3 linked regions of the Homo sapiens genome follow. The protein of the gene in region 2 interacts with the protein of the main gene of each other region in a pairwise test. Each region holds a gene or a part of one and is shown on either strand. Other genes may lie near its edges.

Region 1 (7,308 bases), on a different chromosome or scaffold from region 2:
GTGGCGAGCTGGCGTTCGGCGCCCGGGACCCACGACGCGCCCTGCGTCTCCGACTTCGTGATGCCTCGGACTTCCCGTCACATTTCAAGACTGCGGGATCCCGGGGCCCTCGCTGGCTGCACCAGAGGGGTCTCCACCTGGCGGGACCCTCTTCCCGAGCTCCCGCGGGGCTCCCGGTCGGAAGCTGCCCTCCCAGGCCCTCGCGAGCGCCCCACCCTCGGGCCATTGGCTGCCCCCACCCCAGGGGAGCAGGGAAGATGCCGGCTGGACTGGAGGAGGCAGCTGCTAGGATCCAGCACACCTGGATCACCCAGGAGAGGCTGCAGCCCTGAGGTTCCTTCAGCTGCTACCCTAGGAACAAAGCCCCTGCCCCTCCCACAGGGCCTAAGGTGCACACATCTGCAAGACCAGCTGCCCAGCCAGCTCAGAGGCAGGTTGTCCTGGCCCAAAGGTATTCTGGACAGTGTGTCCTTACCTTGGTGTCAGAGAAATGCCCACCCCACGTTCCTGGTCCAGATGCTGCCCACAGCAGGAGGCGGAAACCAGCAGATTCTGAGCATATCCCTGCTCCCCTGAGAGCTTCACAGAGGAGGGATACGGCTGTGCAGGGGCTGAGCACTGGGCTGTCTCAGGACTAGGCCGGGACCCCTCAGCAGGGCCCCCACTCCAGATGAAGTCACAGCATCATCACAAGCACGTGCACTTTATTGAATGACACTGTAGACAGGTGTGTGGGTATAAACTGCTGTATCTAGGGGCAGGACCAAGGGGGCAGGGGCAACAGCCCCAGCGTGCAGGGCCAGCATTGCACAGTGGAGTGCAAAGGTTGCAGGCTATGGGCGGCTACTAGTAACCCCGTTTTTCCTGTATTATCTGTAACATAATATGGTAGACTGTCACAGAGCCGAATACCAGTAACAGGATGAATCCAATGGTCATGAGGATGCCCAGAATCAGGGCCCAGATGTTCAGGCACTTGGCGGTGGAGGCATAGGCCTGGGCCCCGGTCACGTCGCCAACCATCTTCCTGTCCCTAGACTGGGGGAGAGGAGATGGTGAGGGGACCAGGATCCCCCAGCTGAGAGCCGCGTGCTATGGCTCCGTCTCCTCCCCGCCCTGAGATCAGGGACCACCTCCTCCCCTTCCTCACCCGGGCTCAGACTCTCCAGGAGCCTCGGGGCTCATCCTCCTTCTGCCTTGGCCCCAGCACAGGCTGTTCTCCCCACCATGGGGTGAAGTCACCTGTGAGTTCCCTTCTCACTTTCTGGGAGAGCCTGGGTGCCAGTCTGGAAGGTGAGGGTGTAATTTCTTACTGGGCTATAGGGAGAATTGCTCTGGGCTAATGGATAGCCAGGGACAGACTCTGAGCCAGCCAGCCAGCCTCCTGGAGCCTCCTCCTAGACCTGCACTGGGCAGATTCCCCAAAGCCACACACACACACAGATCACACAGACAAAGCTACTGACGTGAGCACACACGGGGCAGAGGTGCACACAAACTCACAGTCACAGGGACACACAAGTCCCCACCCCAGGCAGCATGTGGGCAGGTGGAGCCCCAGGCTCACCGGCACCCCCTGGATTTCCGCCAGGGCCATACGCACCTTCACGGAGTAGGCGAATGCTATGAAGCCCAGACAGCACCAGTTCAAGAAGAGGGTGTTGAACAGGGACCAGACGACATGGTCGGGCACGGAGGTCTCGCTGTGGATGTTGATCACGGTGGACCTTGGAAGGATGGTGCTGGGGGGTGGCCCCAGCACAGCCACCTCATGTTCCTCCTTGTGCATCTTCTGGCTTTGGGGAAGGAAGTGTTGAGTGAAGGTTTGAGAAGTGTGGTTTTCTGCGTGGAGCGAAGGGCCGCTGTGGTGTCCGGATGCTGGGACGGTGCTCAGTGAGACCTCCTTTCCCCTGTCGTTTCAGTTTCTCAGAAGTGTGTATTTCTCTTAAGTTTCTATTTCCTGCTGTTTGTAAATTGGTGAATTAGCCAGGGACCAATGAGGTGTGGTTTAACTTCTTGAGGATCAAATTACTTTATGGCAGGGTGGGAGGAAAGGCTGAAGGCTAAGGAGAGAGGCTTCCTCATCAGAAACTCAAGTCAGGACTAGTGACTTCCTAAGTGTTGGGTTTAGGGGGCCCTGGGGATTTTACCCAGGCTTGGGTTCTGTCCACCCCAGGCCAGCAAGTACAGGACCTCACTGTCCCGGTTCAGGGCCCCTGCCAGGCCCCCACACTCCAGGCGCCAGGACAATCCCCCAAAAGCCCTCACCTCACTTGTCGCAGGCCTCTCTCCTGAAATCCTTGCTCTTTCCTCAGGCTGCAGTCCTGCTCTGTGCGGGTTTGGGGACTAAACCTCCCAGTGTCTCCTGGTGCAGGTCAGAGGCCTGGTGGCCAAAGTTTCCTGCCCCAAAGCAGCCCTCCAGGCCCAGGAACGGGGACTCTGGGGAGAACTGACTCCCCAGAGGGTAGTGTGTTGAGACACGGGGAGGATTCCAGGGCCTGTAGGGGCAGCTTCAGAGCACAGGGCACACATGTGCCACCCCCTACCTTCCGGGTCCCAGCAATTCCCATGGCTTTGGTTGGGGTGAGTGCTGGATGACCTAGGCGTTGGGTCCTAGCCATGCAGGAGAGACCTGGAGGGTTGGCAAAGCCAAGTCTGGGGCTGTCAGGCCTGGGTGCCCCTTCACAGGGACGGGGAATTGTAGACTGAGTAGCAGAAGGGAGCCCTCAGGCACAAGGATCATGAATTACAAATTGCAAATTACATAAAGGAAAAATCAGAGCCCAAAGGTGGGCCTGCAATTATTAATGTAATGTTCTTAAGTTCTCTTTCTGCTTTCGTTTCTGCCTGCTTTAAGTCTGCTGTTACTTTTCTACAGAGATAAAATCCACTGTTTGCATCCAACCATTTCTTTTTATTGTTTGTGTAAACCAATGAATTTGTATTACTATCTCATGGCTGGAGTTCTGAAGTAAAACCATACTTTTGCTTGAGTGTGTATGTGTGTATATGTGCACATACACATATTTCGTTATGTGTTTTTGGCCACAAGTTACCAAATTTAGCTTAAACTTAAAGAGTACTCATAAATTAAATAATAAGCCTAAATGCTTTTCACGTTCATGTGACTTAAGTAGAATCTTTAATAAGCTAGCTTTAAAATTACTGGTAACGTTAGAAATTGTAGCAGGACGAGCCACAGACAAAACCCTCAGACATCGAGTTGAGGAAAGAAAGGGCTTTATTTGGCCTTTATTCGGCCAGGAGCATCAGCAGACTTAACATCTCAAACACCGAGCTCCAAAACCATCAGCCCCTCCCTACCCATTGCAGCTAAAAAAAAAAAAAAAGAACTAGCCCTTGCCCTTGCTTGGAGTCCCTGCTGGGCCTCCCCAAATCGCACACCAACCCCCCCACCCTCCACCCACCCCTCAACAGGCCGCCTCCAGCCCCAGCCACATCCCAGGCCACTTAGACCAAACTATGTCTGGGTCCCGGCAAGCCAGGGGTGGATGTGGATGGAGCGTGCTCTGAGACATCGAGGACTGCCTACACAAACTCCTCACAAGGCTCTGTGACCTCCTATCAAAGGCCACACATCACTGCGGAGTGGGGTGGGGCTTGAATTTCCCGTGGAAGGTATTTTGGAAGCTTCTTTAAATCACGGGCAGTTTAGGAAGGAAGAAACTGCAGGGCACAAGAGGGAGACAGGATTCTGAGGGGCAGGCATGGAACTGAAACCACCTTTGCAAAAGTCATAACTGAGAATATGATGACAGTGAAGGAGGTCTGACCCTAACCCACTCCGCCTGGCTTCTAACCTCCAAGCTGCCCTTGCTCATCCCTGGGCTTAGCCTAAACTAATCTGGAGAGAAACAGTTTATAGATCAAGGCTGAACAAGCCCCCTTCCTACCTGAGGACCAGACTGCCTTTGCAGGACTAACAAATTAGCCACAAGATTAGAAATTATGGTTTAGGAGTCACGCGGCTGGAGGATGCAAGATTCTGACCCCGCCACCCCTAAATTGCTCCCGGGGATCACAGCACTACTGTAGAACCTAGGATCAGAGTTTGAGATACTTTACAGACCCTGTACTCAATGGATCAGCTGGCACCACCTAAATCCACAATCTTGCTCATGTGGTCCTGTGGCCCCCACCGAGGAGCTGGGTTAGGGTTGGGAAGACAGCTTCGACTCCCCAAGACTTCATCTCCAACCGGACCGGTCAGCGCTCCTGACTCACTGGCCGCCTACCCACCATATCATCCTTCGAAACTCGGATCCCCACGTTTTTGGGGAGAAGGATTTGAGTAATAATAAAACTCCCGTCTCCCCCGCAGCCGGCTCTGCGTGAATTACACTTTCCTTATTGCGATTCCCCTGCCCCGATGCGACCAAGGGGCCCGCCCAGGAGCGCAGAGAATCCATTAAGGGGTCACAGGACCGGGCTCCCAGGGTGACTCCCTGGCCACCAAGTCCTCCAGCAGGTCACTCCTGGATTCCGGCTGGACCCCCTGCCCAGGGAGGGGCCCAGGAGACGCGGAAATCGGGTCCCCCGCGGGTGAAGGGGAGGTGGGAGCCCCAGAGGAGGGCGGGAAGGCTCGGCCGGGGACGTGCCCGAGGGGGAGGAGAGGGGCTCCCGTCCGGGTCCGGCGCTGCGGGTCTCAGGGTCCGCGTCCCGCCCACCCCGCGGGGGTCTGGGCTGCGGGCGGAGCCTCCTCCGGGACCTGCACCTGCGCCGGCCGCCGCCAGGGGCGCCGCTGAGCACCCGCCTCCGCCGCTTCCCCCTCCCCGCCGGGCGGGGCCGCGCGCCTCCCACCCGGGACCCACTTCGGAGTTCGCCCCCTTCGGGACTCGCCTCCGGGAGACCCCCGAGGGGGAGAGGGCGCTTCCTCCGCGTCCATCGCCCTTGCCGCCCCTGGGGTGAGAGCGCGGCTCCGGGGCTGGGGGCGGGAAAGGGTGGGGAGGGCGAGTAGATCCAGACCTGGAGTCGCGGGTGGACGGCGGGGCGGGGGCGCGCATGGCCACCCCAGCTCCCACCGCGGCCGCCCATGGGGCACCCCACATGCGCACACCGGAGACCGAACCGGGGAAGGGCGCTGTAACCAGGTCGGGGCGGGGGTGTCTGTCCGGGGGCTCAGACCCGGGTAGAGGTAACTTAGATGAGGGTCGCTCCACTCTCCTGCGCCGCCCCCACCACGGGGGAGCAGGGCCCATACCCGCTGGACGGGAGGGGGCAGCTGCCACGAAGCAGCACCTGGTCACCCAGGAGGGGCTGCGAGGCCCGGGGCTCCTTCAGCTGCTGCCCTGGGCACAAAGCCCCCTCCCTCCCACGGGCCCTGAGCTGCCCACATCTGCAGGACTGGCTGCTCCAGACAGCTCGGAGGCAGGCAGCGCGGTGCCCCCTCCACCCCCGAGGAACTAAAGCCAGGTCCCCAGCACCACAGAGCAGGGCCTGGGAGCAGCTGGGGAGCCGGTGCCACCTTGCCCCTCCCTGGCCCTGCTGGGGGCTTAACCCTTCCCTCTGTCCTGAGCCGACAGCCTGGATTGCCGACAGGCCGCGAGCGTGGCCTTGGGCCCAGGGTGTCCCGGACTCAGCACTGACGTTCCCGGAAAGAGCCCACGTTGAGTAGGAGCTGAGACCTGCAGGACACAGGAACTCCTCCCAGGGTCCTGGATCCAGCTGCTGCTCACGGCAGGAGGCCCGAAACCAGAAGGCCTGAGCACTTGCCCCGTCCCCAAGAGATGCACAGAGGCTGGAAGGGGCAGTGCAGGGGCTGACCAACCTGCTCATGAAAGGAGGGTCCAGCTGGGCTTCCTGGGTCGAGTAGGGGTTCAGAAAGCTGTGAAACACTCATTTCCTGCATCAGGACTTACTTCGGTCCTGGATGAAGAGTACTGAAGATACATGCCTAAAATATTCCTAACACCAGGATTTGTGCATGTGTTTCCTTCCCCAAGAAAGCTATAAACAGCAAAAATTCTGCTGTAAGCTTCCCTGTGTCCTCTCTCCCTCTCTTCCTTCCCCCTCCCCTAAAACTAAAAGGAATGTTAAAAGACCCTTTTTCTGTGACCAGCGGACCTTATCTATGCTCCCAATTCCAATTCCTTGTGAACATACTTTGTAAAGTCCTGTAAAATCCTGTCTCTTTTGCCATGCTGCTGCAAGGTCATAAAGTAGATAAAATTAGATAAAACCTAAGTTGCAATTCTGTTTTTCCTCAAAATCTAAGACATGTCACAAAATAATTTACTGCCTTTGTTTCTCTCTCTGGTAACATCTTCCCACCACATGTATTTCCCGCCTTAAAGAGATTAAAAGGCAATCACCCAAAACCAACAGTGGCTACCCTCTCCGGACCCCTTCCATGCTGTGTAAGCTTTGTACTGTCACTCTGCTCAATAAAACCTACAGTTTTTTTCTTCTCTTGGTCTGTGTCTCCATCACTCGCCGCGGGCAGCCGCCACACCCAATTCTTTGGTGTGGCTAAGGCAAGAACGTTTGGCATTACATTTAATCTCAGAACCAGCAGGACCGCTCCCCAGGTGAAGTCACAGCAGCACCAGAAACATATACACTTTATTGAATGCCATTGTAGAAAAGCGTGTGAGGATAAAGGGCTGATGCAGGACTCGGCTGTGGGGACAGGGCGAGGAATGGAAGGTGGAGTAAGTGGAATACAGGTCAAGGGCAGAGCTCCTGGCCTCTGGGGGCAGGGCGAGGAATGGAAGATAGAGTACGTGGGATACAGGTCACGGGCAGAGCTCCTGGCCTCAATGATGCCTCCTGATCTATCGCTGGGCCTGGACGACCAACACTGGGATGATGATGAGCAGAATGGTCATGAAGATGCCCAAAATCAGGGCCCAGATGTTCAGGCACTTGGCGGTGGAGGCATAGGCCTGGGCCCCGGTCACGTCGCCAACCATCTTCCTGTCCCTAGACTGGGGGAGAGGAGATGGTGAGGGGACCAGGATCCCCCAGCTGAGAGCCGCGTGCTATGGCTCCAGCTCCTCACTGTCTCCTCCCTGCCCTGAGATCAGGGACCACCTCCTCCCCTTCCTCACCCGGCTCAGACTCTCCAGGAGCCTCGGGGCTCATCCTCCTTCTGCCTTGGCCCCAGCACAGGCTGTTCTCCCCACCATGGGGTGAAGTCACCTGTGAGTTCCCTTCTCACTTTCTGGGAGAGCCTGGGTGCCAGTCTGGAAGGTGAAGGTGTAATTTCTTACTGGGCTATAGGGAGAACTGCTCTGGGCTAGTGGATAGCCGGGGACAGACTCTGAGCCAGCCAGCCAGCCTCCTGGA
Region 2 (7,581 bases):
AAGGGGCTTATTTTTTGTGATTAATAAATACATTAAGTTTTTCCTGGTTTGAATTTCTAATAAACACTTATTTAAATCAATGAACTGCTCATAAGCAAAATAGATCCTCCGTAATCTATTTGAGATCCTCAGTAACCTATTTGAGATCCTCAGTAATTTTTAAAGTGTAAAGATTCCTGAGATCCAAAACTTGGAGACTTGCCACTCAAAGAGTGAAAGGTTTTCTTGCTGATTACAGTCGTATGCTCAAACAAATTCTAAACCAAGCTCATGTACCAAAGGGATTATATAAGAAAACAAGAGTAGCCAGTTTTGGAGAAGAATGTATATTGACAGAGAGTGGGGAGCTGTCTCATTACCCTTCCCAATGCTGGGAAAGGATGGCACTGAAACTGCTGTGATTCTGCATGGATGATCATTCCCATTGGGTGTTTCTAGTGGGTTTCTAAGGAATCACTTGTGAGGACACCACACTTGGCCCCCATATGGAAGGATCAGTAATTTGAAAAGCCATCTCTAACTGTTGCTCTCCCTTTTTTCTAGACAATATTATACTTCCAGAAGAGCCTGAATTGCTTTTCTCTCATTTAAAAGAAGGAAACACAAACAGCATTTCACCAATTTGACTTTGACCAAAATAGTGATTTATAATATTTCCAGCTATTTACAGAAAAATATCCACTTTTAGAAGAATGAGGTGGCTGTAATATCACTTAGGCGAAATCCATGATGAAGAATCCTTTTTAATTTCATTAGCTGGCCATATTGTCGAGTTAATCTTCAAAAAGCATGCTGCTAAAAGGGGAAAGAACAATTGATGATTTAATTTCTAAATTTAAAAACTGCTATTTAAATGAATCATAATAAAATGATCTGGTCTTTAAATGAAGTCCCCATCAGCAGTCTCCTGGCCTCCCTCCTAGCTGGCAATGGCTCCTGCTCCTGGTCTCCATTTCGAGCCCTGGCTTTTCGGGCCCACATTATTCAGATGCTAAAACATTAGGGTGAACACATACATTCGCCTCAGAAAAAAAGGTCATTCTGATTTAAGATCTAAACGACATCTGGGAGATCTGTTACCAGTGAATTAGCTGTAGAAATGCCTAGCCTAAGATAATGTAAGTCAACTGCCTTGTCCTTAGGAATGTGTTTAAATGACCCAGAAACAAAACAGCTCTGTTGTAATATTATGGAGTGTGTGTGTGTGTGTGTGTGCATGTGTGTTTCCACTTACTATCCTTACCATGTCTCTAATACTGTCATGGTTTCCCTGCTTTATTGACTTAGCTTCCTAGCTTCCTTCTTTCTCTTCTCTTTGGTTTTGTCATTTTTCTTTAACTCCTTCCAGTTTTTACTTGCTAAGCAAGTTTATACTTGCTTATAACAGCTGTTACACTACCCATTCATTGTCAGGGAAATATCCTGGCAATCCCATCCACCCAGTTAACTTGTCCCCTCCTGCCCTTCTACTCTTCCACCTTCCATGCACCAACTCCTGGCTCATCCCAATGGCCCAGGAGACCGAACTTGCAGGCACAGCTGCCATCAGGTTGACCTACCAGGCCAAGTATTCACTGATCTTCCCCTTTTATTTTGAGTCATAAAATAAGCTGAAAGTTGTCTTAAAACAAAACAACCTGTTTATATTTTAAATACTTTTCTAATAATTTTGTGAAGTAATTGATCTATTGCCTTATTATTAGCATTAAACATCTTCCTGATGTTGAGGAAATAGGACAACAGCCTACGATAATACAACGATTTGCTTTCAGTTCATTATCATTGTTCATGTTTTGACTGACTTGATACCAGGCTGTCCCCTTTAAAAACTCGTAGCTTTAAATATAGTATGTCTTGAATAATCGTTTTTCTTAAGAAAATGTACTCTTGCTTTAGCCAATTGCAGTATTTTTATTTTTGGAGATATTCTAATTGGGCATTTTTTCTGACTGGCTTCAGTAGCAATTTTCAGAGACTCCAATTGGAATGAAATAGAAATGGAAGAATTTTAGGGCTTCACTTTTAAGTAATGCTCAGATTTTATGCCACTTTCTCTGTGCTTCTTTGAGAGGAATATGAATCTGCATGTAAAACTCTGTACTCTACTGCTGGAGTATGTAGTGGATGCTAGGGAACTGCTGCTTTGTCCTGCCCTTTGAATGAAGGCTGTTATGCAAGAAATGCCCTCCCCCAAAGGCCGTTGCCTTGCCCAATTTTATGCCCCCTCTTTGAGGGCAGCCCCCTTCCAGTGATGGGAGTACAAAGGCCTGGCCCCCTCCCTCGATTCAGGACGTGCCTAAGAGGGAGTCATCCCCACTCCAGAGCTCCCTGAAGGATGGGCTGAGGCCTCAGCTGCAACCACATCACATTCCAACCTCACCCTCTGCCCAGGCCAGCTCCCTCAGCCTATTATACGTGTTCCAGGAGCCCTCCCCAATAAACCTCCTGCGTACAAATATCCATCTCAGAGTCAGCTTCCCAAGGGACCCACTGGAAACAGGATCGTTTCAGGAGTCTATTAGCATTCTAGAGATTTTTTGAGGCAAGACTTTAAATCCTTTACTTGAAAACTTGCCTTAGAATTAGTTATTCCACATGAAGCCAGAATGAACTGGAACCTTCTTTAATGAAAAAGCTTCCCCAAACATGCCTGCATCCCCTTCCTATGGCCTCAGCTCACCACCACTACAAGACCTTTAGAACAAAAACACTTGCAGGCCACCTCTTCCCTTTACCAGGAAGGTTTGAACTTTCAGGCAAAATCAGTTGTGCCTTTCAGGTCACAGACCACCCCACACTCCAGGAAAAAAACCCACACACACAACTGTACACAATGTTGTATACAATTCCAGGAGGATAATGAACCTCCATAAATCCCAGTTTAAGAATCGTTGATTTACAGTGAAAGTAATAGGAACTTTTATAATCTGAAATCAGTTGTCCCAGCATAGGAAACAGAGAGAAGAAGGCAAGAACCAAAGTATATAAAAAATGTCCTAGTTCCTCTCCATAAGATTTCACCAATAGGTTATGAATAATCAAACATCAGCCTCAACTTACATTTTGCGGAGTCAAATTTGGTCGATTTGAGCTCATCCTTTCACGATATTTCTTCCTGGTGCAATAGACACTGACAAGGGTGATGATCAGCATCAAGGCAAACACAGCAACAGTAGATGAAACAGCAATGACTATGGTGTCTCGGGTGGAGCCTCTCTTTTCACACCTTTCTCCCATGTACCACCAGTCTTCCCCTGACTGGCACCTGCATGTTGAGAGCATGACTCAGAGTTATTAGTTGATATCTAACTCCAGAAATCTTCACAGTTAAAGATGTGGATCACCTTTAGTCTATTTGATCACCAATAGGTCATTGCTATATGAAACTATTTTACCCACTCTGGACTGGAGAGAGACTAGCACCTAGAGCACAGGTATAAACAATGGAAAGAAAAAATGGAATTCCTCCTAATCTGATACTAAAACAGTATCTCCAAGTTAGGAAAGGCCGATAGCACAGATAACAGAGAAAGTTTAGTTCTCAGTGTCCCATGCCCGCCACCCTCCAGATTCACATCTTGGCCAAGGGCTCCTCAGAACGTCAGTATCTTCATCTAGAAAATGGAGGCAGCTACACTTAAAATGACTGGACTGTTATGAGGACTTTTTCAGACAATTAGAATATAGAGTTCTATTTTTTTCATAAAAAAATTGTGTTGGCTATCACAAAGATAGTTCTTGAGGTTATCCAAAGCCCCAAAAGGAGAATAAAAAAAAAATTCTATGAATGGCTGTGAGATGAGAATCAACTGATTTCATTCATAAGAACTATTAAGTAATTAATCCTACATTATGGAAATAAAATTTCTAACCAAAGAATGGAGAGATCTCTTTCAAATCATCCTTACCTGCACTCAGCTTTGCCATCTCGAACAGTGCAGACACCGTCATTTTTACAGGTGGTTTTTGAGCAGAGGTCTTGAACACTAGGGGCTGGTGTTAGCTGGATTTGTGTAGAGTTGAGGTGAGATATGTCTAGGAAGATGGGGAAGAGTGTGGATGGAAATCAGCTTTTGTTTAACAATCATTTGATCTTTAATTTTCATTTTCTTTTAATGTTTCTTTTTTCCTTTTTTCTTTCTTTCTTTTTTTTTTTTAGAGGTGAGATCTTGCAATGTTGCCCAGGCTGGTCTTTGCTCCCAGGCTCAGACAGCCTTTCCACTCCGGCCTCAGAGTCCTGGGATTATAGGCGTGAGCCATGATGCCAAGCCCAATCTTAAGTTTCAGAATAGACAATGATCAGATTTTAGGCTTGTGAGAAATTCAGGTATCCTTGAAGCACAGTCTAGCAACATTCATAGGCAGCGAGATAAGAACTAGGCAAAGGGAAACTAGGCCAGCCTACTGGGGCTCCAACTCAACCACATGCTGGCCTGGATTCTGGGAGCCCAGAAGGGTACAAGCCACTGATACCAACTTTCAAGAGACAGATAAGGAAACCAAAACTCAGAAATGTAAAGTAATTGAGGGCATTGCCCAAGGTCACAGGTCTCTGGCTTGGTAGAGCAAATTGGTGGAGATTTGGAGCAAGACACCAAGTGCCCTGACAACCAGTGTTACATTCTTTGCAGTATTTGTTATTGCTTCTGGTTGAAATCGCTATGGTCAAAGAGAACTGATGCATACTGATTTTTGTTCTCTGCTACATAAAATATTTTCTCTCTTAACAGAAGTTATTTCTGAATAATCTCTCCAAGAGGTATCATCTAGATTTACTCTAATGGACACTGGAGTCAAAATTTTGTGGGTTTTAATTGCACCACCTTTCATCACAAACAAGAATCTGATTTACTGAGATCCAAGTGGGTCTTTAATAGAAAATGAGTTAAAATCCTACCACATAAAAAATAGAAACCACCAGAATTGCTGCAAAATGTATTTATTGGCTGCCAGGTGTAAGAAATTTAACATTAGTCTAACAAGAGATTAATGTCATTTCTGTCAAGATATATATATATATATATATATATATATATATATATATATATATATATATGCATATATGTATGCATGTATGTACATTTGAAACAGGTAAGATGCAGACGTTTCCAGTCATTTAATTTCATGTGCTTGTGTGATATTTTTATTTCAGGAATCCTAGGGTATAATAGTTCTATTTTAACTTATTTCTTTTCTTTTTTTGAGACGGAGTCTCGCTCTTTGGCCCAGGCTGGAGTGCAGTGGCACGAACTTGGCTCACTGCAAGCTCCGCCTCCCGGGTTCACACCATTCTCCTGCCTCAGCCTCCCGAGTAGCTGGGACTACAGGCGCCCGCCACCACGCCCAGCTAATTTTTTATGTTTTTAGTAGAGACAGGGTTTCACCGTGTTAGCCAGGATGGTCTCGATCTCCTGACCTCGTGATCCACTCGCCTCGGTCTCCCAAAGCGCTGGGATTACAGGCATGAGCCACTGCGCCCGGCCTATTTTAACTTATTTCTAAAGAAATTTCCCAACCTAAAGGTTTCCGCTATAGCTTCATGTGGTGGTCATTAAATTCTTTATTCTGGAATCCTCACTGTTTCAAATTAAATTATTTTCATATTGTTAATAATTCATATTCCTCCCAAACCCCATTCATGCCCATTCCCCCCACATCTCTATATAATACATCTAAAAGTGGAATGCAGAAAGAAAAACAGAAAATAATCAGTGGCCACAACAAAAAAAAACTAGTTTATATAAAACTATTTTTATTGACATACCTTCCACTGTCAGTAGGATATAAACATCATCTCCTTTTATAAAATCTCTGCTTTTCAGCCTTTCGTGGGTTATAAAGGCACTGGTTCCATAGCCCCCACCTCTTCTAAACTGAGTTCCATTAGAGAACAAAGCCACTGTTCCCACTTTAGAAGGCCTGTCCCAGAAATAGTTTCCATTATCTGAAAAAGCAATTTATATTAATGGAGTGTGTTTATCATCATCGTAGCTTTTGGTGGTAGGAAAGAACAGGCAATGTGAAACACAATTAGGCTGGAACTCAAAATAATTAAATGATGCTATTGACCTGTGATGTATTCCCTGGCAAATCACTGGGGCTTGTTCATTTATACTGTCCTAGAGGAAATGAAATTGCCTGGCAGGGAGGACCACACTCTAGAATAAGAGTGGAGAGGTACCAGAAGTTTCCTAGGTACCAGATATTCCTGGGAATATCATATCTTTACTTATTGGCCAGTATAGAAACCCTCCTATCTATTAGAATAATTTAGAATAGGCTTCAAGGCTACTAAGAGAGTCCTTTTACAAAGTTACAGATTGTCCAGTTAAAGCAATATGTTGCTGAGAGAGTTTTTAATATCAGCATAGGATGATTTATCTTATTAACTGAATTATTCACCTAACAGAGCAAAGTGCTTCAGAAGTAGAAGACAACAAGAAGCACTGCTTCTGGGAAAAGATAATGACCTACCCAGCCCTGAGCTGTTTTTAATGTCATTTAGTAAGAAACACTTTAGGAAAAAGTGAAGAAATTCTGAATGTCAAGTCCCTACAATTCCATTGGTGAATATTATTGTTTTCCTATGAGATTAAGTTGGATTTTTTTCTATGTCGATTTGGTCCATGTTTTTCATATATAGAATTCACATTTGGCAAAATTATTCAGCTTGCCATAATTCCATTTTTTCCTTTACTAGGGTCTCAGAAGCAAAGAATTATTAAAATTAGTAGTGTGATCTTTGCTTTCAGTGGGTTGCTTCTTTTTGAGATGGGAAAGATGGGGAATGATGTCATGATTAGCAAGTCCTCTGTAACTTTTTACTAAGAAATTATAATGCATTTTCATACCCTTCCCACCAACACTTGAATGCACCTGCTCAATACCTTCCTTCTGGTCAAAAACTACCCCCATTTCAAACGCTGAATTATTTTTGACAATCCCAGTGACGTGAACAAGGTAGCATGAGTTAGAAGAACCCAACATCTGAGGGCCTCTCCACCGCAGGCCTTTCCACAGCTTCCACACTTGACCTGTACTAATTCTCATAGCAAATCTGTGGAATGATTACTACAGCCCTGGCTTTACAGCTGAGGACACTGGGGCCCTAAGAGATTATTTGCTCAAGATTACATAACTAATGAGAAGCAAACTTTGGACTTGAACTCAGGCATGTCAGACTCTAAAACCAACACTTCTTGCACAGAAGTGGAAATTTGAGAAGGGCCATCAGTTCTTAGGAATACAGTCAGCATTTGTTGGAGTCCTTGCTGACATTTGTGATGAGCTCCTGTCTGACAGACTCAGTCCACAATTCTTGAAACCTTTCCCCTAAATATCTGTTCTTAAGATTTGGGGCTCAAAATTCCCTAGGTAACTAACTGTGCAATCCCTCATTCCCAAAATTATCAGTCCCTCCTAGAGCAATGATTGTTTATTAGCAATAAAGAAAATGAGTTACGAACCGGTGGTCATAAATGGGTCTGTAGTTATACTCCGCTGATTGGACATACGCTGTCGAATGTCAGGATTTTGATCCAAAAGTGTCATTGTGGCTTGTTGCCAAGGACATGGCCACTG
Region 3 (8,539 bases), on a different chromosome or scaffold from region 2:
CCTCCTCCACCTGGGTCACATGGGTTCATCTGGGATCACCTGTTCCACTTGGGACCACGTGGGTGTCATCCGGGCCCACCTCCTCCACCTGGGGTCACGGGGGCTCATCTGGACCCACCTCGTCCACCTGGGGTCATGTGGGCTCATCTGGACCCACATCATCCACCTAGGACCACCTGGGTGTCTTGAGGCCTGTCCATCTGACCCCAGGGAAGGGAAGCCTGCCCCCTCCTCATGCCTGCACAGGCATCAAGAGTCATGAGCGTACCCATGCCTCTCTCCCCTAAGCCAGCTTGGGGTTTGAAGCCAGAAGAGGGGCCCTTTGTCCACATCCCCTGCTGTAGGGGCAGAAGGTGACAACTGGAGTTGCTGCCCAGATGGGAGGGGCTCACACCTACCTTGGGTGCTGGGACTGCACCTGCCTCCCACAGCAGCACAACCACCAGGCTGGTGACCAGGAGGAGCCTGAGGGGGGGCCAGAGAGGGAAGTGTGAGGTAGGGGAAGGGGACGCCCTGAACTCCAGGCAGCACCCTGATGGGCAGCTGGGAGGCCTGGGCTGGGTTCCTCCTTGGGAGCGCAGGTAGTTTTACTGGACTGTGCTCACATGGGCCAAGACACGCAGGCACAGAACAGGGAGAAGCCCCAGGCCCACCTGCCTCCAGCCCCCCTCAGGCCAGAGCCCACAGCCCCAGCCCCAGACTCTGCTCCTCACAGTCTGGGCAGACCCCACTGTGGCAGGCACTGGTGGTTGGCTTGGAAACTCCAGAGGTTCTGCCATGCCTCTGTGCCGCCCTCCACGTGGGGACACACATGAACACACTTGCACATGGGTGTGGGTATGGGTGGGTATGGAGCAGCGAGGGCCCACAGCCCCACGCCCACAGAGCCCTGAGGCTGCACGCTGCTGCAGGCAGGGCACCTGCTGTGTCCCAGAGCTGCGGGGCCACGGCTGGGGGGCTCAGGGGTGAATGGCAGCACTATTAGGCAGGCAGGCAGGGTGTCAGGTCAGTTCGGACACGGGATGTGTGTGTTTGTGTATGTGGTGGGGGGTGTGCATATGTTGTCTGTGCATGTGTGTTTTGTGGGTGTGGACCATGTGCATGGTGGGTGTGCATGTATGCTGTGGGTGGTGTCGTGTTCGGGTGTGTGTGCACTGTGTGCTTCAGTGTGTGGTGCATGTGTATGTTGTGTGTGGTGCGGAGTGTGTGAGTTCGGGGGTGCGTGTGCTGTGTGTGTATGTTATGTGTGTTTGTGTGTGGTGGATGTGTGTGTATGTTGTGTGTGGTGTGGAGTGTGTGGGCTTGGGTGTGTGTGTGTGCTGTGTGTGCATGTATGTGTTGGATGTGTATGTATGTTGTGTGTGGGGTGGAGCGTAAGGGTTTGGGGGTGGGTGTGTGCTGTGTGCATGCGTGTGTGGTGTGTAGAGTGTGAGGGTTTGGGAGTGTGTCTGTGTGTGCGTGCGTGTGTGATGTGGTGCAGACTTGTCTCTTCAGGGCCCTGCGGGGGAGGCTTGCGTCTGTCAGGGTGGGGTGGTCTTGGGGTGGGGCGGGGCTCTGGGTCTGTACAGGGCTCAGCAGGGCTGCAGTCAAGGGTGTCTGGGGCAGGCGCAGTGGTTCACACCCATAATCCCAGCACTTTGGGAGGCTGAGGTGGGCAGATCACCTGAGGTCAGGAGTTTGAGACCAGCCTGGCCAACATGGCAAAACTCCGTCTCTACTAAAAATATGAAACTGCCTGGGCACGGTGACTCACGCCTGTAATCCCAGCACTTTGGGAGGCTGAGGCAACAGATCACTTGAGGTTAGGCATTCGAAACCAGCCTGGCCAATATGGTGAAAACTTGTCTCTACTAAAAATACAAAAAAAAAAAAAAAAAAATTAGCCAGGCGTGGTGGCAGGTGCCTGTAATCCCAGCTACTTGGGAGGCTGAGGCAGGAGAATCACTTGAACCTGGGAGGTGGAGGTTTCAATGAGCCAAGATGGCGCCACTGCAGTCCCTCCAGCCTGGGCGACAGAGCGAGACACTCTGTCTCAAAAAAAAAAAAACAAAACTTAGCTGGGGGTGGTGGCACACACCTGTAATCGCAGCTACTCCTGCTGAGGCAGAAGAATCAGTGTCTGGGACACCCTGCAGGCCTGGATTGCAGCTCCACAGGGACCTTTGCCCGTTCTCTGGGTGACTCAGCCATGGTGAGAGGTCAAAGGGCAGGGGGGATGCCCCGGACAGCCCGGGGCCGGGACCTGGTCTGGTCTGGTTCGGGGGCCCTGCTTCTCCTCAGGACCCCCAGCTGGTTCTGATGCTGGGCAGGGGCTCTTGTCTGGGCACTGGACCCCAATCCCACTGCCGTGCTGCCTGGGCCACCCCTGGTGCCCACCTCCCATGACACACAGCCTGGGGGCCTGGGATTCGGGTCACGGTAGCCCCTAGAAAGGTGGTCGGTGGTGACTGCCAAGCAGCCTGGCTGTGGGATCCCCGTGGGTCCCCTCTCCAGGCAAACGGCTCTGGGCACCAAAGGGTCCCCAAGCTACCCAGAAGCCACCTCTCTACAAGGGAGAAACACCAGGAGAGGAGGGGCAGGGAGGGCCCTGGCTTAGAGGAGGGGGAAGAGGAGGAGGGCACCTCCACAGGAGCGGGGAGAGGGGTCCCCCACACAAGGAGGGGGAAGACAGACACCCCCACAGAAGGAAGGCAGCCTCTGATTCCAGGGTCCAGCGGGAGCCCGGGTGCTTCCCTGAGCTCCAGATCACAGCTCCCAGGGTGACACCACCTCAGGGCAGCCCCTGGCTCCTGCGCCCCAGCCCCTCCCCTCCCCCAGCCCCCTTCCTTTTGGGCAGTCACAGGCCTGCTGGTTTCAGCCTGGCACCTCCCCTTTCCTTGTTCCGGGTGGGGGTCCCTGGGTGATTCTCCACCAGGCCAGGGGAACCAAGAGGCAAGTGCACTCGGGGCCACAGAGGAGGTAGAGCCTGGTGGCAGACCCCAGACCCTCAGAGGGCCCCTCCTTCTCCCTCCCACCCGCACACTCCCCTGAACCAGGCCCCCTGGAGCGCAGCACAGCTGGGCCCCCTCTGGCTAAGGGCCAGGCCTCCAGGTTTGGGTGGGGTGGGGATTGGGGCTCAGGGATGGTGGCATTACCTCCTCATGTCTGGGGTCCGCGTCTCTGTAGAGAGTGCTCAGGGAGCTGCAGTGGCTGATCCCAGTATCTGGCACCCGGCCCAGCTCCTCCTGCCCAGGCCCAGGCCAATTGGGGCTTTGTTGCTGCCGCTTGGGGCGTGTCAGGACAGAGGTCGGGGCCAGGGATCCCACCCTGGGTAGCTCAGGTGACTGGCTCTGCAGCCGCCCAGCCCACTCGGGCCTGGATCTGAGCGGGGACACCCAGCTGCCTGCTCAGGGCCTGCCACACGACTGAGGAAGAAATTTGCCTTTAAAAACATGCTTGTTGACCGGGCGCGGTGGCTCACACCTGTAATCCCAGCACTTTGGGAGGCTGAGGCAGGTGGATTGCCTGAAGTCAGGGGATTGAGACCAGCCTGGCCAACATAGTGAAACTCCGTCTCTACTAAAAATAAAAAAAATTAAGTGGGCGTGGTGGTGGGCTCCTGTCATTCCAGCTACTCAGGAGGCTGAGGCAGGAGAATTGCTTGAACCTGGGAGGCGGAGGTTGCAGTGAGCCGAGATTGCGCCACTGCAGTCCAGCCTGGGCAACAAAGAGCGAAACTCAGTCAAAAAACAAAACAAAACAAAACAACACCAAAAAAAAAAAACCTGCTTGTCATGAAGGCTGAACCGTGCTCACAACCAAGGCAACTTGGAAGGGTGTCGTGGGCAGCTGTCCCCAGCTCAGCTGAAGCACTTCCTTCCTCAGGTGGGCGTGACAAATCCCCCATCCAGCCCCAGCCCACCTGCCTGTCACACCTGCCCCTGCCCACCACCTGCGGCAGGGCGGGACCAGCTCAGCTCCACCACCGTGGAACCCTCACCCCCAACGCCACCACCTTCCCCACCCCTTCCAGGCGCTCCCTCCTGTCCTTCCTTACTGGGCACACCAGCCTGAGGAGTCTTGCACGCTGTGTGGCCAGGGCCCGCTCCACGGGGCCCAGTGCCCTCATTGCCTTTTTTATTTTATTTTTTTTGAGACAGTCTCACTCTGTCACCCAGGCTGGAGTGCAGTGGCGCGATCTCAGCTCACTGCAACCTCCGCCTCCTGGGTTCCAGTGATTCTCCCGCCTCAGCCTCCTGAGTAGATGGGACTACAGGTGTGCACCAACACGCCCAGCTAATTTTTGTATATTTAATAGAAACGAGGTTTCGCCATGTTGCCCAGGCTGGTCTCGAACTCCTGACCTAAGTGATCCGCCTGCCTCGGGCTCCCAAAGTGCTGGGATTACAGGCATGAGCCACTGCGCCCGGCCCTGACCACCTTCTTTAGCCGTCCCTGGCACACCCTGTAAAACAAAAACACAATTCCAATCTCCGCCTGACCCCACCCGACTGATGGACCCTCCCTAAGCCCAGGGCATTCCACGGTTAACCTGAAAACTAGTTCAGGCCATAATGGGAAGTGGGGGTCAGACAGGCCTCATTGTACCCGCCTCCTTTTGGAATTCAGGCAAAACTGACCAGCATTAACATTAAAACAGAGACCTTAAGACTAATAGAACAGACTCTGACAAGAAATAGTCCCTTTTATTGATTCTATCTGCATATACTTGGTCTCCACAACACCTTATCTTAACCCTGACTTTCCCTTCTATTGATTCTAGGTCTTTAGATAATAACTTAACTCTTTTGACCAATTGTCAATTGGAAAATTACTGAATCCACCAATGACCTGGACACCCGCCGCCTTTCTGGACCAAACCCATGTACATCTCCCACGTACTGAGTGATGTCTCGTGTCCCGAACATGTATCAAACCAGCTGCACCCCAACCCTCTCGGGCCACACATGTTCTCAGGATCTCCTGGGACGGCATCATGGGCCTTCCGTCACTCATATTTGGCTCAGAATCACTCTCCAAGTATTTTACAGGGTTTCACTCTTTTCCTCGACAACCCCCAGCGGGCAGCTACTGTTGGGGGCTCTGAGACCGCCGGCCTGCAGGGTATGGTTCTCCCGAAGCTGCATGTTCAGACACAATTGGAGGCCGTGCTTCCAAGGGGGTGGAGTGAGGGCCCTCAAGAAAGGCCAACTCAGGAATTTCCAACGTGACCCACAGCGTCTGAGCTATTGAGGAGGGGTCACCCGAAGAAGCCGCTGGGCTTGGGTGAGAACAGATGTTCCTCTGGCCTTCTTGCCTGGGGCTGCTCCTGAAACCACCTTTGCGAAAACCTGATAGTGAATCTGACCTAACCGACTCCACCTTGCTTCTAACCTCCAACCTGTCCTTGTTCATTCCTGGGTGTAGGTCACACCAACTTTGGGAGGATCTTAGTTTATAGTTTAATGTTGAAACAAAGATGAAAACAGCCCCTTCCTGAACAAACCCCCTTCTTGCCTGGGGACCAGACTGCCTTTGTAAAACTAACAAATTAGTCACAAGATTAGAAATTATGGTTTAGGAAACTTCTAGTGGCTTGAGGTATCGGCCGGAGCGGCCGGGTGGCGGGAGGAACCGTTACGGGAACTGAAGTTGCCGATTAAGCCTGATCAAGATGCCAACCTCCCAAAAGCACCGAGACTTCAGGGCAGAGCCCATGGGGGAAAAGCTAGTGGGGAGCCTGGCCAGGATTGGTGAAGTCCTGGGCAAGAAGCTGGAGGAAAGGGGCTTTGACAAGGCCTATGTTGTCCTTGGCCAGTTTCTGGTGCTGAGGAAAGATGAAGACCTGTTCCGGGAATGGCCAAAGGACTCGTGGTGCCAACACCAAGCAGTCCCGGGACTTCGGATGCCTTCGAGAGCATGCGATGCCTTCTTGTGATGCTCTCCAGGAAGCTCTCAATCCCCAGCCCTCACCCAGAGTTTGTAGCCGAGTCGGGACTCCTCCCCTGTCCTCTACAAAGGAGAAGATTGCTATTGTCATACTCACGTCTGACGCACTCTGGGTCTTTTGGGAGTTTTCTCCCCTAACCATTTCAACTTTTTTGGACTCTCACTCTTGCATGTCTCCCCCTTCCTTTTTCACTTTCCCTGGTGACAGTTACCAGCTTTCCTGAATGGATTCCTGGCCCCGTCCCTCACCTCCACCCTCACTTTCAGTCCATTTGATACTATTTGGCTCCTTTTTTGGCAGAACAGTCACTGTCCTTGTAAAGTTTTTTAGATCAAGAAAGTCAGTGGCTTTCATGAAAAATAAAAAAGAAATTATGTTTTAGGTGTCAGGCAGGACCGGGCGCGGTGGCTCACGCCTGTAATCCCAGCACTTTGGGAGGCCGAGGCAGGCGGATCACGAGGTCAGGAGATCAAGACCATCCTGGCTAACATGGTGAAACCCCGTCTCTACTAAAAATACAAAAAATTAGCCGGACGTGGTTGCAGGCGCCTGTAGTCCCAGCTATTCGGGAGGCTGAGGCAGGAGAATGGCCTGAACCTGGGAGGCGGAGCTTGCAGTGAGCAGAGATCACGCCATTGCACTCCAGCCTGGGTGACAGAGCGAGACTCCGTCTCAAAAAAAAAAAAAAAAAAAAAAAAAGGAGTCAGGCAGCTGGAGGCCACAAGATTCTAAGCCTCCCCAATTATTCTTAGGGAAAACATCACTATTGTAAATCCTAAGATTGGTGCTCGAGACATTTTTCGGACTCTGAACTTGGTGGAACAGCTGGTGCCACCCAGATCCATGAACTGGCTCACCTGGTCTTGTGGCCCCCACTCAGGAAGTGACTCAGCACAAGAGGACAGATTCGACTCCCTGTGATTTCATCTGCAACCCAACCGATCAGCACTCCCTGCTTCCCAACCCCTACCCACCAAATTATCCTTTAAAATTTGAGTAGTGATAAAGCTCCAGCCTCCCGTTCAGCCGGCTCCGCGTGAATTAAACTTTCCGTGTTGCAGTTTCTCTCTGCCCTGATAAATCGGCTCTCTCTGGGCAGCAAGCAGAATGAGCCTGTTGGGCAGCTACACTCCCACCCACCCCTCAGTGGCCGAGTGGCTCCACGGGGGAGGCAGCAGAAGGCCAGTGGCTCAGGGAACTGGGGTCCCCAAGGGGATTATGAGCAGTGATTGGCAGGCCAGCCCGAACTTGAATGGGGTGATCAGGTCTGGAATGAGAAAGGCACAGGGAGCCTCCCCAGGTTCCCACACAGTCCCAGCTGACCTCCCCATTCCTCTGGCCCAACACAAGTCTGTGCATTCACACTCAGGAGACGGGAGACAGCCGGTGGGAAGTAAAGGTCGGGCACCTTAAAAACTGCATCCACACAGAGCGTGGCCCCCAGCCCACCCTTGAGGCACCAGCAGAGTGGGTCCCGCGGCCTGAGCACAGCCTCCAACCACACAACCCAGTGTGACTCAAGGAAGATAGGCTTAAAAAACTGGGCGGAGACACCAGGCCACGTGCTACAGGGGAAACAAAGTCCACAGATTTCAACAAAACAGCAACAACAACCCTTGGGAGAAAATATCAGAACTCAAAATGTTTGCAATATATTATCTAAAACATCTAGTCTTTAGTAAAATGAGACGAGGTCCCCAGGCTCGTCTCGAACTCCTGGGCTCAAGCAATCCTCCCACTCAGGCCTCCCAAAGTGCTGGGACCACAGGCATGAGCCACTGTGACTAGCCTGTTGTATATTTTAAATTAACAAAAAAGAGTGGAATTAGAATGTTAGCACAAAGAAATGATACAATCTTGGGGTTATGGATACCCCAATTATCCTGGTTTGATCATTACATATGGCATCCGTGTACCCCATGGATATATATACCTATTATGTACCCATAATAATTAAAACTTTTTAAAAATTAAAAATAAAGGGCCAGGTGCAGTGGCTCACGCCTGTAATTCCAGCGCTTTGGGAAGCCGAGGCGGGAGGATCACTCGCGGTCAGGAGTTCGAGACCACCCTGGCCAAAATAGCGAAACCCCGTTTCTACTAAGAATACAAAAATTGGCTGGGTGTGGTGGCAGGCGCCTATAGTCCCAGCTACTAGGGAGGCTGAGGCAGGAGAATCGCTTGAACCCGGGAGGCGGAGGTTGCAGTGAGATGAGACTGCACCACTGCACTCCAGCCTGGTTGACAGAGTGAGACTCCATCTCAAAAAAATAATAATAAAACTAAAAAAAAGAAAGAAAAGGACTTATACCCAGAATATAAAAAGAACTCTTACAACTCAACAATAAAAAGACAAACAACCCAACTGAAAAATATTCAAAACATTTGCACAGACATTTCACCATAGATGATTTACAAATGGTGACTCCACCCTGAGAAGATGTTCAGCACCACTTGTCACTAGGGCGACGTGGACTCAAGCCACAGCTACACTCCTATAGGACGGTGTTATGGGCTGTGTCCCCTCTAAATTCATACATTGATGTCCTAACCCCTCAGAATATGACGATATTTGGAGATGGGTTTTTAAAGATGTAAGTAAGGTAAAGC

What was found. Proteins that work in one complex are often made in the same cells at the same time.
Region 1: the proteins of MEP1B (region 2) and IFITM1 interact in a protein complementation assay, tested with the Homo sapiens proteins (one study listed by IntAct).
Region 3: the proteins of MEP1B (region 2) and PRAP1 interact in a protein complementation assay, tested with the Homo sapiens proteins (one study listed by IntAct).

Annotation. Positions count from the first base shown.
Region 1 is NC_000011.10:308,652-315,959, reverse strand, and holds IFITM1 (interferon-induced transmembrane protein 1), read right to left. Parts: upstream 1,921-7,308; 5' UTR 1,790-1,920; coding exon 1,604-1,789; intron 1,039-1,603; coding exon 847-1,038; 3' UTR 688-846; downstream 1-687. Other genes in the region: IFITM2 (interferon-induced transmembrane protein 2), read right to left, coding at 6,795-6,947.
Region 2 is NC_000018.10:32,213,445-32,221,025, reverse strand, and holds the end of MEP1B (meprin A subunit beta isoform 1 precursor), read right to left. Parts: coding exon 7,467-7,581; intron 5,945-7,466; coding exon 5,765-5,944; intron 4,036-5,764; coding exon 3,909-4,035; intron 3,266-3,908; coding exon 3,061-3,265; intron 796-3,060; coding exon 781-795; 3' UTR 622-780; downstream 1-621. UniProt on the Homo sapiens protein: Membrane metallopeptidase that sheds many membrane-bound proteins. Exhibits a strong preference for acidic amino acids at the P1' position. Known substrates include: FGF19, VGFA, IL1B, IL18, procollagen I and III, E-cadherin, KLK7, gastrin, ADAM10, tenascin-C.
Region 3 is NC_000010.11:133,342,021-133,350,559, reverse strand, and holds the start of PRAP1 (proline-rich acidic protein 1 isoform 1 precursor), read right to left. Parts: upstream 3,188-8,539; 5' UTR 3,143-3,187; coding exon 3,135-3,142; intron 466-3,134; coding exon 399-465; intron 1-398. Other genes in the region: ZNF511-PRAP1 readthrough, read right to left, coding at 399-465. UniProt on the Homo sapiens protein: Lipid-binding protein which promotes lipid absorption by facilitating MTTP-mediated lipid transfer (mainly triglycerides and phospholipids) and MTTP-mediated apoB lipoprotein assembly and secretion.